Regions from separate parts of the Homo sapiens genome. Here region 1 is linked to region 2. Evidence: fine-mapped expression QTL. A gene starts in region 2. The other region holds a variant in brackets. All regions are shown on one strand. Distances are between the middles of the regions.

Region 1 (8,350 bases), 33 kb after region 2:
TGAGGCTGCTCCCACACCTGTGCCCCTGAGCCTCCTCTGGGCCTCGCTGACTGAGACTCCAGCAACCCCAGCTCCAGGCACAGATGAGTGCAGGTGCAGAAAATGTAGACTGGTCTTACCCGTGTGAGTGAAATGGTCTGAAAAGGTCATGTCTACATGTAATTTTCCATCTTGTCTGTCAGGTGCTCGAACCGAAAAGCGAAATATTTGGTAAAAAACGAACTGACTAGGAATCTTATTTCAGCTCCACTACTGTCTAGCCATGAGATTTTGGCCAGGTTGCTTTGGTAAAGCCTCAGTTTCCTCGTTTATGTATGGAAATGGGGACTTCAGGCCTCTTTGACAGACCGAGAAGGCAGATCAGGCAGAAAGGTGCTGGACCCTGAGACCTTGGGACTCAGGATCAGAAACATCAGAGGGAAGAAAGAAGTCAACAACTCAAAGGCAATCCCCAGACTCGCCTGTCCTAGGGATGGCGTGTTTGGTAAATTATTTGTGCCAAGACTGTTCTTATGAGAGAGAGTCTGAAAGAGAGAGAGAGAGACAGAGAGAGAGAGAGAGAGAGAGAGAGAGAGAGAGGAGATAGAGATGAATAACAGAGTTCACGTAAGCATAATTTAATCTCTGCCTCATTTTCCTAGGCTGATGGTATCCTTTTATTATCCTTGGAGAACCATGTTTCCTCCAGTCCTTGTGAGAGGAAAGAGCAGAGTCCTGAAACCAGAGTGAGGTGTAATTTGGCCTCTTCCCTCTGGGAGTCATCTCAGGGAGCCACCTGGTCCATCAGCCTTGTCCAGGCAGAGCACCATTGGTTCCTCTGGCAAGTCAGGTCCTTGGTAAATACACGTTCCCCTGCATTTCCCTGCTACTGAATCAGAAGCTGTTCCGAAGACTCAGCCAGAGCAGTTGAGTCGTGCTTGGTCCCGAGTTTAGCAAGTACCCAGCATAGAATGAGCAGGAAAGAAGGGATTGTTGTTGCTGAATGCAATAGGAAAGGCACTTCTGTGGCTTTTGAGTGGAAGTTCTCTGCCCCTCAAGCCCTCCCACTCAGAGGTGTGCTCCTGCCTCCCTGTTTTCCCCTAGATTTAGTTGTTAACCTGAAGGGGGTTGTTTGGGAACTGCGGACGTTCAGTTCCTCTTGCCTCCTTCCTTCCTTCTCAGGCTGCTCAGACCCAGAGCCCCTCTTGACAAAGACCCTGCAGAGACAAGCCCTAGGAATGTGAGCTCCCCCAGGGCAAGGCACTGTCTGTCGTGGTCTCTGCTGTATCCCCCCACTCTCCGAACAGTCAGCACTCCATGCTGTTGGAGGCATGATTCGAATCTTTTGTTTTCTCCTAATGACAGATTATAAACCACTTCCCCATTCTGCATTTGGGCTGTCCTGTCAAACCTGGAATGATGGGTGTGTGTTTGGGTGGAAGAGAGGGAAGAGGATAGGGCACTCACAGTGGGTGCTGCTGGTTGAGCTGGGAGAGCTCTCTGCCTTCCTGCTACCTGATCAGGGGGATTTGGTAAACTTACTCAACCCTCTGCACCTTCTAACTCTAAGTCTCACCCCTGACACTCCTGACTACTGCCTCACCCAACGACACGAGACGCCCTAGAGCATCCCAGAATGCATTTCTTTCCATGATGTGTGGTCTACAGCAGGAAGCTTGGGTTGGGGGTGAGGGGATGGCAAGGCTGGGCTCCATCTCTATTCCATCCTTTTCTCTATGACACAGCAAATAACAAAGAGATTTACTTCTTGTAAAGACTCTCACCCAAGACCTCCACTCACCCTTGCCCCACCACTCTGTAGCAATTTGGAAGCAGTAATATAAACACCCAAGTAAAAATGGTTTATTAAAAAAAAGATATTGAATGAAATCATTTAACAAAAAATATAGGCAGGTGGTTCTAGCCTTGGTTTAATCAGCCTTGGTGATTAAAATACCTTTTGGGGCTCAGGTTTTTTTTTAAATTGATATAAAATATACATAACAAAATTGACCATTTAAACCATTTTTAAGTGTCAATTTAGTGGCATTAAGTCACATTGCGGTACAACTATCACTACTGTTTATCTGCAGAACTTTTTCAACATCCTAAACATAAACCCTGTGCCCATTAAACCGTCACTTCCCATGCTCCCCTCCCCTCAGTCCCTGGTAATCACTGTTCTGCTTTCTGTCTCTGTAAATTTGTTCACTCTCAGTACCTCATGTAGGTGGAATCATAAACTATTTATCTGTTGATGTCTGGCTTATTTCACTTAGCATAAAGTTTTCAAGGTTCGTCCGTGTTGTAACATGTATGAGTACTTCATTCCTCTTTCAGGCTGAAGGATACTTCGTTAGGTACATATCACATTTTGCTTAGCCATTCATTCATTCATTGATGAACATTTGGGTTGCTTCTGCCTTTTGGGTCTTGTGAATAAGCTGCTATGAATATTGGTGTACAAATATGGGTTCAAGTCCCTGCTTTCATTTCTTGTGGGTCAATTCCTATAAGTGGAATTGCAGGATCATGTGTTAATTCTATGTCTGAAGTTTTGAGGAAAGCTGCCATACTGTCTTCTGCAGTGGTCACACCATTTTACAATCCCCCCCAGCAACGCTCGAGAGTTCCAGTTTCTCCTCTACATCTTCATGGACTGAGACAGAGTCTCACTGTCGCTCAGGCTGGAGTGCAGGGGCACAATCTCGGCTCACTGCAACCTCTGCCTCCCGGGTTCAAGTGATTCTCCCATCTCAGCCTCCCAAGTAGCTGTGATTACAGGCACTCACCACCACGCCCGGCTAATTTTTTTTTTTTTTTGTATTTTTAGTAGAGACAGGGTTTCACCCCGTTGGCCAGCCTGATTTTCTTTCTTTTGATACTAGCCATCCTAATGAGTATGCAGAGCTGTCTCACTGGAGTGTAGATTTTCACTTCTTAGAACATAGAGTGCCATGGGCTCAGGGGCAGGATGGGCAGAGCTCCAGCAAATGACATAGTAATTATGGCAAGGGGTGAGGCACCAGGGCAAGCTTTCTAAACCATGCAAGGGAAACTAGTAAGAACGTGGCCTCCTCTACTTCCTGTGACCACAATGGGGGCTGCATTGACACTGAGACCAAGAAGAACCAGTGGACATGAGGCTTGGAATGTGACTGTGAAGAGAAGGGAGGAACCCCACGGGGCTGCACTTAGGCAGGAGGTCTTAGAGAGTAGTGGAAGTGTGCCCTGAAGAAGAGCCAACAAAGGAAGGCCTGCTGTCTTTGGGCAGGGAGTCCTTGCTGATCAAGCCATGTATAGCTAGAATCTTGAGGAGTCCATGGCGAAACTTCTGGCCAATGAAGGCGTAGATGAGGGGGTTGAGGCAGCTGTGAAGGATGCCCAGAATCTCGGTGGCATCCAGAGCCCGGTCGATGTGATTGCGGCGCTCACAGGTCTCCTGGATCACCTGGGTCCTCATGAGGGTGTCTGCCAGCAGGACCAGGTTGTAGGGCAGCCAGCA[G/A]AGCAGGAAGATGAGGACGACAGCAAAGATGACCCGCATGGCCCGGTGCTTCTGCCCCATGTGGGCCTTAAACAGCGTACGCAGGGTGAATCCGTAGCAGAACAGCATGATCAGCAGTGGCACGATGAAGCCAAAGGACTGGGGCAGGATCCGTAACAGCATCCGCCAGTTTGCTGTATTGTTGCCCATGTCCTCATAGCAGGCTGGGCTAACATTGGATGAGTAGACGGTCCTTCGGAAAAGTAAGACAGGCAGGGCCAGGAGCAAGGACAGACCCCAGATGCTGAGACATATGAATTTGACCAAGTAGCGCTTCTGGGTCAGTGTGCGTGTGGCATGGACAATGGCCAGGTAACGGTCCACACTGATGCAGGCCAGTAGCAGGATGCCACTATAGAAGTTGACTTCCTTCAGGAGTGAGACCACCTTGCACAGGAATGTGCCAAAAATCCAGCCATTCACCTTGGAGGCGGCCCAGATGGGCAAGGTCAGGGCAAAGAGTAGGTCGGCCAAGGCTAGGTTCAGCAGGTAGACATCAGTGACGGAGCGGCCGACCCTGCTGTATAAGATGACCAGCATCACGAGGGAGTTTCCCAGCAGGCTCAGCAGGAATACCAGGGCATAGATAATGACCACAAAATACTTGTTGATTTCCAGGGATTCTGGTTCACATGGGGCGGCATCTAGTAGAAAAGGGGGCAGGGTAGAGCTGTAACTGTAATTACTAAGATCTTCACCTTTCCAGAAATCTTCAAAGCTGTCACTCTCCATGTTAAAATCTTCCATTTTTGAGGTAAACTTAAATCCTGACCTATAGAAGAGAGATGAAGGTTACTGCATAATAAATTCCCCATATTCTTGCCCATCCACTCAAGAAACTGGGATAGGATTCTTTGTGTTGGCTTGAGTATTACAATGTAGTAATTTTTCCCTTCAAATTTGTAAGTGGTAGCTCTTAGGTTATGAGATAAATTTGGTGATAAATGGTACATTTTATGAGAGGACCATAGTTCTCTTTAATATAAGAGAGAAATTCTTAGCATTTCTTTTAGCATCGCCATCACCTAAAACTTTGTAGAAAGTTCTCTTTGGATAATCCCCACAGAACCCTCAATACTACCTGGATCCTTCAGTGGCGAGCATCTTTGGCTATCAAGGCTGGGTTTAATGTTCAGAAATGTGAGATGTGAGATGTCACTCAGTTCTTTTTTTTTTGTCTTAGAGATGGGGACTTGTTATGTTGCTCAGGATGGTCTTAAACTCCTGACCTTAAGTAATTCTCCTGCCTCTGTCTCCCAAAGTGCTGGGAATATAGGCATGAGCCACTGCACTCAGCCCCATTCAGTTTTTAATCAGGGGATTAAGCAGGAACTCCAAATGGGCTATACCCTCAGAAAAGATCATGGTTTGACTATAAAGCTGAGACATGAATCCCTTTGTTCAATTTTCTAAAAGTTATTTTAAAAGATGTATTCTGGAAAATGGTTTGAACAATTGTGGCATGGAGTTTTGGAAGGCTCGAGCTAGCAGAGTCTTCAGTTAATTAGTAAGGCCCAGCGTTTCTCTTTTGGGTAGAAGGAGACCCGCTTTGGGAATGTCTGTGTAGTTTGGAAAAGTATATTAAAAACAATAAGCAAGCGGGCTGCCTGATTCTCCCTGTGGGTGGAAACGTAACAGGTTATTTGGGGAGCTCTGGGCAGCCATGTGCCACCATGCGGGATAAGCAGACACAGCCAGTCTGCTACCCAATAAGAGAGGGGCAGCAGGAAGCAGAGAAGACAGGGTTTGCACTACCCTTGCTTGGTGGCTTTCCAGCCCTGCTGGAGACCCTTCCTGTCCTGCATGTGTGTGCCTCCATCTAGCCTTGACTCCCCTGTTCCTCTCAGATTTAGTCTAGCTCCTGGGGCTCTGCCCTTGCCACAGGGACAGCACAGATCCTGCTCTGGGGAAGCCTGGGTGTGGAGGGTGGGCTGCAGTTATTCAAAAATATTATCCCAGTGGTGGCTCACACCTGTAATCCCAGCACTTTGGGAGGCTGAGGTGGCAGATCACTTGAGGTCAGGAGTTTGAGAGCAGCCTGGCTAACATGGTGAAACACTGTCTCTACTAATAATACAAAAATTAGCCAGGTATGGTGACGTGCACCTGTAATCCCAGCTACTTGGGAGGCTGAGGCACAAGAATTGCTTGAACCCAGGAGGTGGAGGTTGCAGTGAGCCGAAATCACATCACTGCACTCCAGCCTGGGCAACAGAGCGAGACTCTGCCTCAAAAAAAAAAAAAAAAAAAAAAAAAAATCCCAGTTTCTCAAAGCAGTCAACTAAAGCAATCCAGCTCCCTAATTAGCTTCTTTCTGAACCACAAAATAGATCACCCTCCGGCCATTGCCTTAGAGTAAGGGATGACCACCCTACCACCAACCATGTCCAAGTCCGTAATCTACCCCCAAAATGGAACCCAGTGTGAGAGAAAAACCAGGAAGTTAAAGGTCCCAGAACCCACTTCACACTCACCAGGCTGGGCACACTCAGAAAAAGATGCCCAAGAACAATGTGGGTGAGGAAGTGGAAAAGTCAGAACTCTCCCACATTGCAGGTGGGAATGTAAGATGGTGCAGCTGCTTTGGAAAACAGCTTAGCAGTTGCTCAAAAAAGTTAAACATAGAGTTACCACATGAACCAGCAAACCCCAACCTAGGTATACACCCAAGAGAATTGAAAGCTAATGTTCATAGTAGCATTCATCATTAAGGCCAAAAAGTGGAAACAAACCAAATATCCATCAACTGATGAACGGACAGACAAATTGAGGAACAGTCATGAGCAACTGAAAGACTTTTTGGTCAATGACACATCACAAATACCACAGTGGTCCCATAAGATTATAATACTGTATTTTTAGTGTTCTTTTCCTATGTTTATATATAAGAATACCATTGTGTTATAATTACCTACAGTATTTAGTACAGTAACATGCTGAGTAGGTTTGTAGCCTAGGAGCAGTACTCTACCATATAGCCCATGTGTGTAGTAGGCTATAGCATCGTATACTCTACCATGTTCACATGACATATTTCTCAGAATGCATCCGCATTGTTAAGCAACTTATGACTGTATTATGTACAACAGAATATTATTCAGCCATGAGAAGGAATGAGGTACTGATACACAATACAACATGGATGAACCTTGAAAATGTTAGTCTAGGTGAAAAAAGGCAGACACAAAAGTTTTCTTATTGTGTGATTCCATATATGTGAAATGACCAAAATAGGCAAATGGGTAGAATTGGTAGAGACAGAAAGTAGATTGGTGGTTTCCAGGGTCAAGGGGAGCTGGGAGAGGAATGTTAATGACTACGGAGTTTTTCTTTTGAGTGATAAAAGTGTTCTGGAATTAGTGGCAATGGTTGTAGAATATGCTAAAAACTTTAAATGGGTGACTTTTGGGGTATGTGACTTATGTCTTAATTAAAAAAAAGATTAATCAAAGGGTACACGGCCTTGCAAAGCAAATACAAATATTACAAAAATAACAACAAAAGTCCCAGGGAGGATTTCTTTTTAGCAGAAAGGAAGTCTCTGTTGTCATCAATCATATGTAGCAAAGAAGAAAGCTGAAGAAGATTAAGCAAAACTGGAAAAATAATGCCACTTTTCCCCCAAGAGTGATGGAATTCTTAGCCATCACCTTCCTGACAAGTTTTTAGTTTCTCTTTTAAGAGTTAGGGGCCAGATACATTGCCTTCCCAGCATGCCGAGGCAACTGATGGAGAAGATTCAATCAGTTGTAATGTACTATACTAGATCACAACAATAAAAGTTAACATTTGGGCCGGGCGTGGTGGCTCCCAGCACTTTGGGAGGCCGAGATGGGCGGATCATGAGGTCAGGAGATCGAGACCATCCTGGCTAATGCAGTGAAACCCCGTCTCTACTAAAAATACAAAAAATTAGCTGGGCGTGGTGGCGGGCGCCTGTGGTCCCAGCTACTCGGGAGGCTGAGGCAGGAGAACGGTGTGAACCCGGGAAGCGAAGCTTGCAGTGAGCCGAGATGGCGCCACTGCACTCCAGCCTGGGCGACAGAGGAGACTCCGTCTCAAAAAAAAAAAAAAAAAAGTTAACATTGTACTTTATGTATGTCTTACGTAATTTATAAGCAATCCCTCATTTCTGGCCCTGCCTGGCCAGAAGGCTGGGGAGGTATTGAGAGGGCTGGGAATACAGCTTGCTGGACCAGTATGGTCAGCAAGACCTGAAAGAAGTCACCAGCTCCTCAGTCCCATGGTTGAGAGCAAGTTTGCTGAGAGGCCCAGGGTATGTCCAATGAAGTCAAGAGGTCAAGGGTGGATCACTTCTGGGAGCAGATGATTACAGATGCTCTTAAGGGAACAAATGACCCAACAGAAGACCCATCTTTGAGAGTAGATGTAGGGCATATTGGGTGCAGAGAGCTTGTGCTCTTAGAGAGCAGGGCCTTGTATGTATGAATATTGGCTGTGAGAAGCCAGGACTGAGGCTGCTGCAGAAACTGCCATGTCAGCACAGGCAGCAGTGGCAGAGCATGTTTCACAGGTAAATCCTCACTGTGGATAATCCAGTGCTCAGCTGTGCTGGGGGTGGGCTGGAGGTGTATGGGTGAGCTCATGCTCCCAGGCATTATGGGTCAGCTTCAGGTTCCAGAGGGAGAGCATGCAAGTCAGGACAGAAGGTAGAGAACTCAGCAAGGAGAACCAGGTCAGGCCAGTGACCTCCAGCTCCTAGGGTAGGGAGAGGGGTGTTTGTTGTTGGTGTTGTTTTTTAGTTTACCAATCTCTACAGAGGATGACTTGGCAGTTAGAGGGACAAACTAAGGGAAGGAGATGACA
Region 2 (8,374 bases):
ATTACAAACACTTTTCTATAGCATTAATTATAGCTGTACATTATTTTAAATAGAAGCATGGTATTCCATTTTATAAATCCAGTATAATTTGTATAAACATTTTTTGAAGAACATTGAGATTATTGCTGTTTTATTATTATAAACAACCCTGTGATAAACTTACTTTCCTTCCTTCCTCCTTTCTTTCCTTCCTTCCTTCCTTCTTTCCTTTCTTCCTTCCCTCCCTCTCTCCTCTTCCTCCCTTCCTCCCTTCCCTCTTTTAGTGGAATTTCAGCATCAAAGGTTCTGCATTTTTTGGTGTGTTCGATACACAGCTCCCCCACGGGACCATGGGGGTTGTGTACAAAATAAATAAATAAATAAATAAATAAATAAATAAATAAATAAATAAAGTGATCATAAGAGCCTGGGCAACATAGCAAGACCCTCATCTCTACAAAAGTGTTTTAATTATCTGGTTGTGGTGGCACACACCTATAGTCCCAGCTACATGGGAGGCTGAGGCAAGAGGATCGCTTGAGCCCAGGAGTTCAAGGCTGCAGTGAGCTATGATCACTCCACTGCACTCCAGCCTGGGAGACAGAGTGATGTCCTGTCCTGAAAGAAAGAAAAATAAAGGAAAGTGGGCATCTGAGCACTCATTTGAAGGAAATCCTCCGGAATCGATTCAGAAATCCTCATGAAGTACCCAGAATTCCCTGCTTTGGAGCCAGCCAGACCAGGATGAACTAAAAGTGACTGAACACTTATTATCTGCCAACCACTTTACATATATTAACTAATTGATCCTGATGCCAATCCTATAAACTAGGTCCTACTTTTATTATCCTTTTGCAGGTGAGAAAACTGAGGCACAGAGTGAGCATCTAAGCTGCCCAAGGGCACACATCTAGCCAGGGACAGAGTTGGGATTTGTACCAGCTGGTTTGGAGCTCAAGCCTTCCATCATCACAACAGCTTGGAGAGGTAAGTATTATTATCCCCGTTTTTATAGATAAGGATATTTTGATAAATGTTAAGAGATGCCACAATTTGCCAGTTGACTGGCATTCAGGCTGCACCTGTCACGGCTTTCTTCGTGGCACTGGGTGTTCTGCATAGAATAGAAAAATGCTTTCCTATCACCACCCAAGATCACAAACTAGTAAAGAAGAGCCAGTATTTCCATCCTGGTCTGTCTGACTTCAAAGCAAGGAATTCTGGGTCCTTCATGCGGATTTTCTGAATCCATTCCGGAGCGTTTCCTTCAGATGAGTGCTCAGACGCTCACTTTCCTTTTTTAATTTTTCTTTCTTTCAGGACAGTACATCACTCTGTCTTCCAGGCTGGAGTGCAGTGGAGTGATCGTAGCTCACTGCAGCCTCGAACTCCTGGGCTCAAGCGACCCTCTTGCCTCAGCTTTCCATGTAGCTGGGACTATAGGTGTGTGCTAGTACATCCAGATAATTAAAACATTTTTGTAGAGATGGGTGTCACTACGTTGCCCAGGCTCACTTTATTTATTTATTTAGAGACAGGATCTCACTTCATCACCCAGGCTGGAGTGCAGTGGTGTGATCATAGCTCATTGTAGCCTTGACCTTTCTGGCTTAAGTGATCCTCCTGCCTCACCCTCCCTAATAGCTGGGACTACAGGCACACACCACCATGCCCAGCTAATTTTTACTTTTACTTTTTATTTTTAGAGAGATAGGTCTTGCTATGTTGCCCAGGCTTGTCTTGAACTCCTGAACTCAAGCAATCCTCCCACATTGGCCTCTCAAAGTGTTGGGATTACAGGCATAAGCCACCATGCCTGGCCTATTTATTTATTTGTTAATTTTTTTAAAAAAAATTGAGATTGCAGGAAATAATTTTTAAATTTAATTTTAGTTTTAAAACGGAGATTGCAGGAAACAAATATGCTCACTTTTCAAGGTCCTTCTCTGGCTTCCTCTGGAGACTGGAGATCAGGGCTGGGAGGTCTGCACCTGGCTAGGTCACGTGTCTGTCAATGCCCCTGTATCTTTACCACTGCAGCCTTGACCCAGTGTCTCACTGACACTACTCCCTGCTCCTCTCATCCTAGACCACATTTGGTTTCCAGAACTCTCACAGTTGGGCATGTTTTGGTTGCTGGTAACAGAAAAGTCAACTTAAACTGGTCTTAACAATAAAGACAATTTATTGGCTCATGGAACCGAAGAAAGTACAGAGAGAAGATGGCCTCTGGGCATGGTTTGTTCAGGACTCTTGGTCTGTTTCTCTGATTCTCTCAACTCTGCCTTCTTCTGTGTGTTGGTTTTTTCCTTGGACTGTTTTTGCCATTTATGGTAGCAAAATGGCTGCTGACTGCAACAAGACTATATACTTGCTTTTCCACATTCATTGAGCAAACATCTGAACTTTGCTCTGACTGGATCATCTTGGGTCACAGACTCACTCCCTGAGCCTGTTGCTGTGGTTACGAGGACGTCACTGGGGAGAGAGGAGAAACCTCCCTCTACCCCTTTCCTCTACTTTGATCCCAGATCCAAGTGGATTCTTCTGGAGGAATGAGAAGAGATGCTGAAGCTGGCATAAGGCTGATGCAGGGACAAAATAGATGTTCTTACAGCCACATTGTGCTGTTCACATGGTCTGTGCAGAAGTCATCATGTTTAAAACAGAGTGGTAAGAAGATGTCACCCAAAGAGATACTACATTTTGCCAGTTGACTGGCATTCGGGCTGCACCTGTCACAGCTTTCTTTGTGGCATTAGGAGCTCTACATGGAATGGAAAAATGCTTCTCAGCAGGAACATTCTAGGCCATTTTAAGAGGGCACAGTTATAAGTGGGAAGTGAGGTATAGAAGATAGGTTGGGTGGGCTGACTTGCTGGAACATTTTGAAGTGGGTAAAATTTTATTCTAAACTCATCTATATGTGCTTTCTCCCTCCTTCAGTGAAATGCTCGTCCTACTGCGAAGTGAAAGGTTCTTTCCACCCTTGTCCTCCAGATGCAACTTCTCCTGGAGACCCCAGCATTGCTGTTGCCCTCACCACACTCATGCAGCAGGGCTGCTCCCCTTCACTCCTCGGGCTCCAGGAGACCAGCCTCTTCCCTAACCCCTCAGTGATTCCTTGAAATAGACTGGAATAGTGAACCGACTTACTGAGGGTTTAGGAAAAGCAGAAGGGAACTATACACCAAGAAGAACTTAACATACGGTGTTAAATATACCTGCTCTTGGCCCTGGTCTTTCTCAAGGGGGTGTCTCACAGGGGATTCCCTGTCTAGCAACTGCTGCCCCCTTGTGGCAAAAACTATCCTTCTCCCGGCCTCAGGGTCTTTCTTGAGTATAGGCAGGTGTTTTGCAGTCTAGGCCCCCGTCTTTTTTCTCCTGTGTCCCCAGTGACTATTTTCTGCCCTTGGGGCTGATTTTCCCTAGATGATTAATAGAGGGAGTCTCCCACCTCCTGGGACTACCCCATCTTTGACTCCTTTCTAGTCTAGGCGTTAGAGCACAATAGTCCAACATCAGTAAAAGCAAAGCATGAGTGGCTATTGTCCCCTTACACTTCCTGTTACCATCTATGAATGATAAAAGAGCCCAGGAGGAAAGCACAACTTAGCTTAAAAAATAGGCTTGCCGGCTGGGCATGGTGGCTTATGCCTGTAATCCCAGTGCTTTGGGAGGCAAAGGCAGGAGGATCACTAGAGGCTAGGAGTTCAAGATAAGCCTGGGCAGTATATCAGGACCCTTTCTCTACAAATAAATAAATAACTAAATAAAAAATAAAAATAAAAATATAATATAAAAAAAGAAAGCCAGATGTAGTGGCTCTTGCCTGTAGTCCCAGCTATTCAGGAGGTTGAGGTGGGAGGATTGCTTGAGCCCAGGCATTTGAGGTTACACTGAGCTATGATCACACCACTGCATTCTAGCCTTGGCAACACAGTGAGAGCCTGTCTCTTAAAAAAAGAAAAAAATTCTTTCCAGTGCAGAACTGTAGGAATCCATGGCATGGTAAATTTGGCATTTGTGGTAGGGCAGGATTTATACTTGCACAGACTGGCATTAGCTCCAAACATTAGAGGAAGGTTGGAAAGAAGCAATGCCAGGCAGACCAACTGGGCTGTGTGGAAGTGAAGCTATCAGGCATACCAGTGACTTTAGTGTGTAGCCAAAAGCAATAGACACTGAATCGTGGTGGTGACTTATGGTCCATGAATCACAGGAGAAATGTCTCCCTTCATTTATTCCACAACCATTGATTGAGCACCTACTATATTCCCTGAAAGAGAACATAAACATGAATTGAAGAAGGTTCTTGCTGTCTCATGGCTCCCAAGCTAGAAGAGGGCTGACTTGTAAATGCCTCACAGCAGGGTTCATGTTATATGGAGAAGTGACGAAGGTGCCAGAAGACTCAAGCTAGGGGACAGCCATTAGCTGCTGGAGGCAGCTAAGGTGGGTTCCCAGAGAAGCCATTCTCCGTTACTGAGATGGGGGCTGCAGTGACCTTGACCACAGCTCTTCCATTCATGGACTGCCCCAGCTCTGTGGTCTCTCTGCTAACCAGCCAGACTCTGGGAGTGGCCTATGCCGTCAGCCTCAGGGCCATTTAAACCAACTGGTCATTGGCAGTGATTGTGCGAAAGAGTGGCTGGCGGCAAAGGAGGGTTTGTGTTCCATTCAAATACCCTCAAAAAGCCTGAAAAATAAGTAGAGATTGAGGCCAGGCCTTGGAGTTGTGGAAGGTGGAGAACACTGGGAAGCCAACCTCCAAAGAAGACCAGGTTGGAGGCAAAGGAGGAAGGGGAGCTCTCGTTGGCAAACCAACAGGGAAGCCAAGGATATCCCAGTAACTGCTCTCACATCCTTGATGAGAATGCCTTGAATCCGAGCTAGGCCACCTCAAAGAAGCCTGCAAAATAAGTAGAGATTGAGTGCCTGCTGTTCAAACACAACTCAAGCGCAGTCCTCCTCCTCTTTCCCACTGGATTGCCCCCAAGTCCCTCCTATGGGGGACTCCTTCTGAAGTCTCTGCTGTAAGTCAAATCCTTCGCCCTTTATACTTGGTCAGGAAGTTGCAAGCTTCCACAGGTGATATACTAGGGAATTTAGGAATAAACAAATGGAAATAAATTCAAGAAAAGGAAAATAATAAAAATGATCATCCATAGAGTGGAGAATTCAGATAATGGACCCTCAACCCCAGCTTCACACCTGGGACCCCCACTTGGTCATATGGACCCTGGCAGTCTCTAATCACAAGTCTGTGATCCCTTGACTTAAACTGTTCTTCCCCAAATGTAGACATGGGTGGGGCTCAGAAGGGAGGTGTCATCTGATGTGGTTTCCTTATTTCCGTTTATTCATCAAGTGCCCTCTAGCTGTTAAGTCACTCTGATCTCTGACTGCAGCTCCTACTGTTGGACACACCTGGCCGGTGCTTCAGGTAGGAAGCCACCTCTGTTTGCTAGGACTTTCTGTGGGGTAGGGCTGCTTGGCTTGACTTTATTTTGGAAAATGTATTCATTTCTGTGGGAGCTGAGGATTTCTGCTGCCCGCTTCCTCTCTTGTGACCACCACTCATACATGGAGTTAGCAGGTGAAGAGGACAGCCTCCTCATCCCCTCTTTTTATACCTTGCCCTTTTGTGGGAAGAGGCTGACCATTCCCCAATTTGATGTTTATTGCTTCACCTTAAGACTTTGTCTTCAGTGAAAATGCAAATACTGGTAGGGAGGGAACACACTAAAATGTGTGGATCTGAGTGGACTCATCATACACCCTCAGGCCTGGCAGCAAATGAGAGGTGGATGATTCTGTCTTCCTCGATTTGCAGATGAGAAGACTGAAATCTATAGGGGTACGAGACCCCACTCAAGGTCATGAGACTTATTTATTTATTTATTTATTTATTTTGAGATGGAGTCTCACTCTGTCGCCTAGGCTGTAGTACTGTGGCACGATCTCGGCTCACTGCAACCTCCATTTCCCGGGTTCAAGTGATTCTCCTGCCTCAGCCTCCTGAGTAGTTGGGATTACAGGTGCACGCCACCACACCCAGCTAATTTTTTTGTATTTTTAGTAGAGACGGGGTTTCATCATTTTGGTCAGGCTGGTCTCGAACTCCTGACTTCATGATCTGCCTGCCTTGGCCTCCCAAAGGGCTGGGATTACACACGAAACTTATTAATGGTAGAATCAGGATGGAATGAAGACTGGATGCTAGGTGTCTTTACAACCAACCTCGGTGACTTTCCAAAGGCTTTCAGACTTCTCTGGAGAGTCCTGGAGCTTTGAGGGGCTCTTTAGGGGCCATCTGGGTTCGGAGATTAGCACACTCTGCCCCACAGTGGCTCAGCTTTTATCTGCTTCACATACTGGGCTTCTGGGAAGATCTTATTTCAGTAAACTATTTCACAATAGGAAATATATTTGAAAACTCTTGAATGATTCTGTGGATTTTTTCAGGGGTGGAGGGTTTCAGGGACCAAGATGGAGACTTTATCTTCTCAAATACTTAAAACTCCTTTAGACAGAGGAACAAAATATGTGCTCCTCATTTAAAGAAGGCTTAAAATATACAGTTTAATGCAATGTGTTGTTATCACTTCCTTCCCCCAGTAGATTTTAAGGAGGGTAAACAAGAATCAGGGAGAACATAGGAATAGAAATAGTAGAAGGGGACACCTGGGAACAGGTTTGCCTTCTTGCATTTTGCTTAATGCTGGCCCTTCCCTGAATGTCTAAGACCAACCTGGTCCCCACATCCAAATGCACAGACACAGCTGAGGATGGAGAAGGCTAAAGAGGGACAGAGGTAGAGACATAGGCTGAGAGGAGGCAGTTGTAGGTTGAGCTAGGGCTAAGGTGTTTTCCCCATATTCCATCTTACCCCACACTCAGGCCAGGCCTTAGAGTTGTGGAAGGTGGAGAACACTGGGAAGCCAACCTCCGAAGAAGACCAGGTTGGAGTCAAAGGAGGAAGGAGAGCTCTCATTGCCAAACCAACAGGGAAGCCAAGGATATCCCAGTAACTGCTCTCACATCATTGATGAGAATGCCTTGAATCCGAGCTACTAAATCACATTTCCTTCCTTCTAACCTTCCAGTTAGATCAAACCATTGCTGAAACTGAAGAGGACATGTCAAATATTACAGATCCACAGATGTGGGATTTTGATGATCTAAATTTCACTGGCATGCCACCTGCAGATGAAGATTACAGCCCCTGTATGCTAGAAACTGAGACACTCAACAAGTATGTTGTGATCATCGCCTATGCCCTAGTGTTCCTGCTGAGCCTGCTGGGAAACTCCCTGGTGATGCTGGTCATCTTATACAGCAGGGTCGGCCGCTCCGTCACTGATGTCTACCTGCTGAACCTGGCCTTGGCCGACCTACTCTTTGCCCTGACCTTGCCCATCTGGGCCGCCTCCAAGGTGAATGGCTGGATTTTTGGCACATTCCTGTGCAAGGTGGTCTCACTCCTGAAGGAAGTCAACTTCTACAGTGGCATCCTGCTGTTGGCCTGCATCAGTGTGGACCGTTACCTGGCCATTGTCCATGCCACACGCACACTGACCCAGAAGCGTCACTTGGTCAAGTTTGTTTGTCTTGGCTGCTGGGGACTGTCTATGAATCTGTCCCTGCCCTTCTTCCTTTTCCGCCAGGCTTACCATCCAAACAATTCCAGTCCAGTTTGCTATGAGGTCCTGGGAAATGACACAGCAAAATGGCGGATGGTGTTGCGGATCCTGCCTCACACCTTTGGCTTCATCGTGCCGCTGTTTGTCATGCTGTTCTGCTATGGATTCACCCTGCGTACACTGTTTAAGGCCCACATGGGGCAGAAGCACCGAGCCATGAGGGTCATCTTTGCTGTCGTCCTCATCTTCCTGCTTTGCTGGCTGCCCTACAACCTGGTCCTGCTGGCAGACACCCTCATGAGGACCCAGGTGATCCAGGAGAGCTGTGAGCGCCGCAACAACATCGGCCGGGCCCTGGATGCCACTGAGATTCTGGGATTTCTCCATAGCTGCCTCAACCCCATCATCTACGCCTTCATCGGCCAAAATTTTCGCCATGGATTCCTCAAGATCCTGGCTATGCATGGCCTGGTCAGCAAGGAGTTCTTGGCACGTCATCGTGTTACCTCCTACACTTCTTCGTCTGTCAATGTCTCTTCCAACCTCTGAAAACCATCGATGAAGGAATATCTCTTCTCAGAAGGAAAGAATAACCAACACCCTGAGGTTGTGTGTGGAAGGTGATCTGGCTCTGGACAGGCACTATCTGGGTTTTGGGGGGACGCTATAGGATGTGGGGAAGTTAGGAACTGGTGTCTTCAGGGGCCACACCAACCTTCTGAGGAGCTGTTGAGGTACCTCCAAGGACC

What was found.
Region 1: its variant is fine-mapped to the expression of CXCR1 in whole blood (TOPMed, PIP above 0.99).

Annotation. Positions count from the first base shown.
Region 1 is chr2:218,130,722-218,139,071 of GRCh38, reverse strand. CXCR2 (C-X-C motif chemokine receptor 2) reads right to left here. Exons shown (of 3, transcript NM_001557.4): 3 at 1,821-4,295. The coding sequence starts at 4,270. The coding sequence ends at 3,188. Among named protein-coding and RNA genes, the nearest start is that of CXCR2, 8.9 kb to the right of the region's middle. The variant G/A (reference allele first, on the strand shown) is at 3,485.
Region 2 is chr2:218,163,959-218,172,332 of GRCh38, reverse strand. It overlaps CXCR1 (C-X-C motif chemokine receptor 1), which reads left to right and starts at 5,371. Exons shown (of 2, transcript NM_000634.3): 1 at 5,371-5,425; 2 at 7,089-8,374. The coding sequence starts at 7,122. The coding sequence ends at 8,174.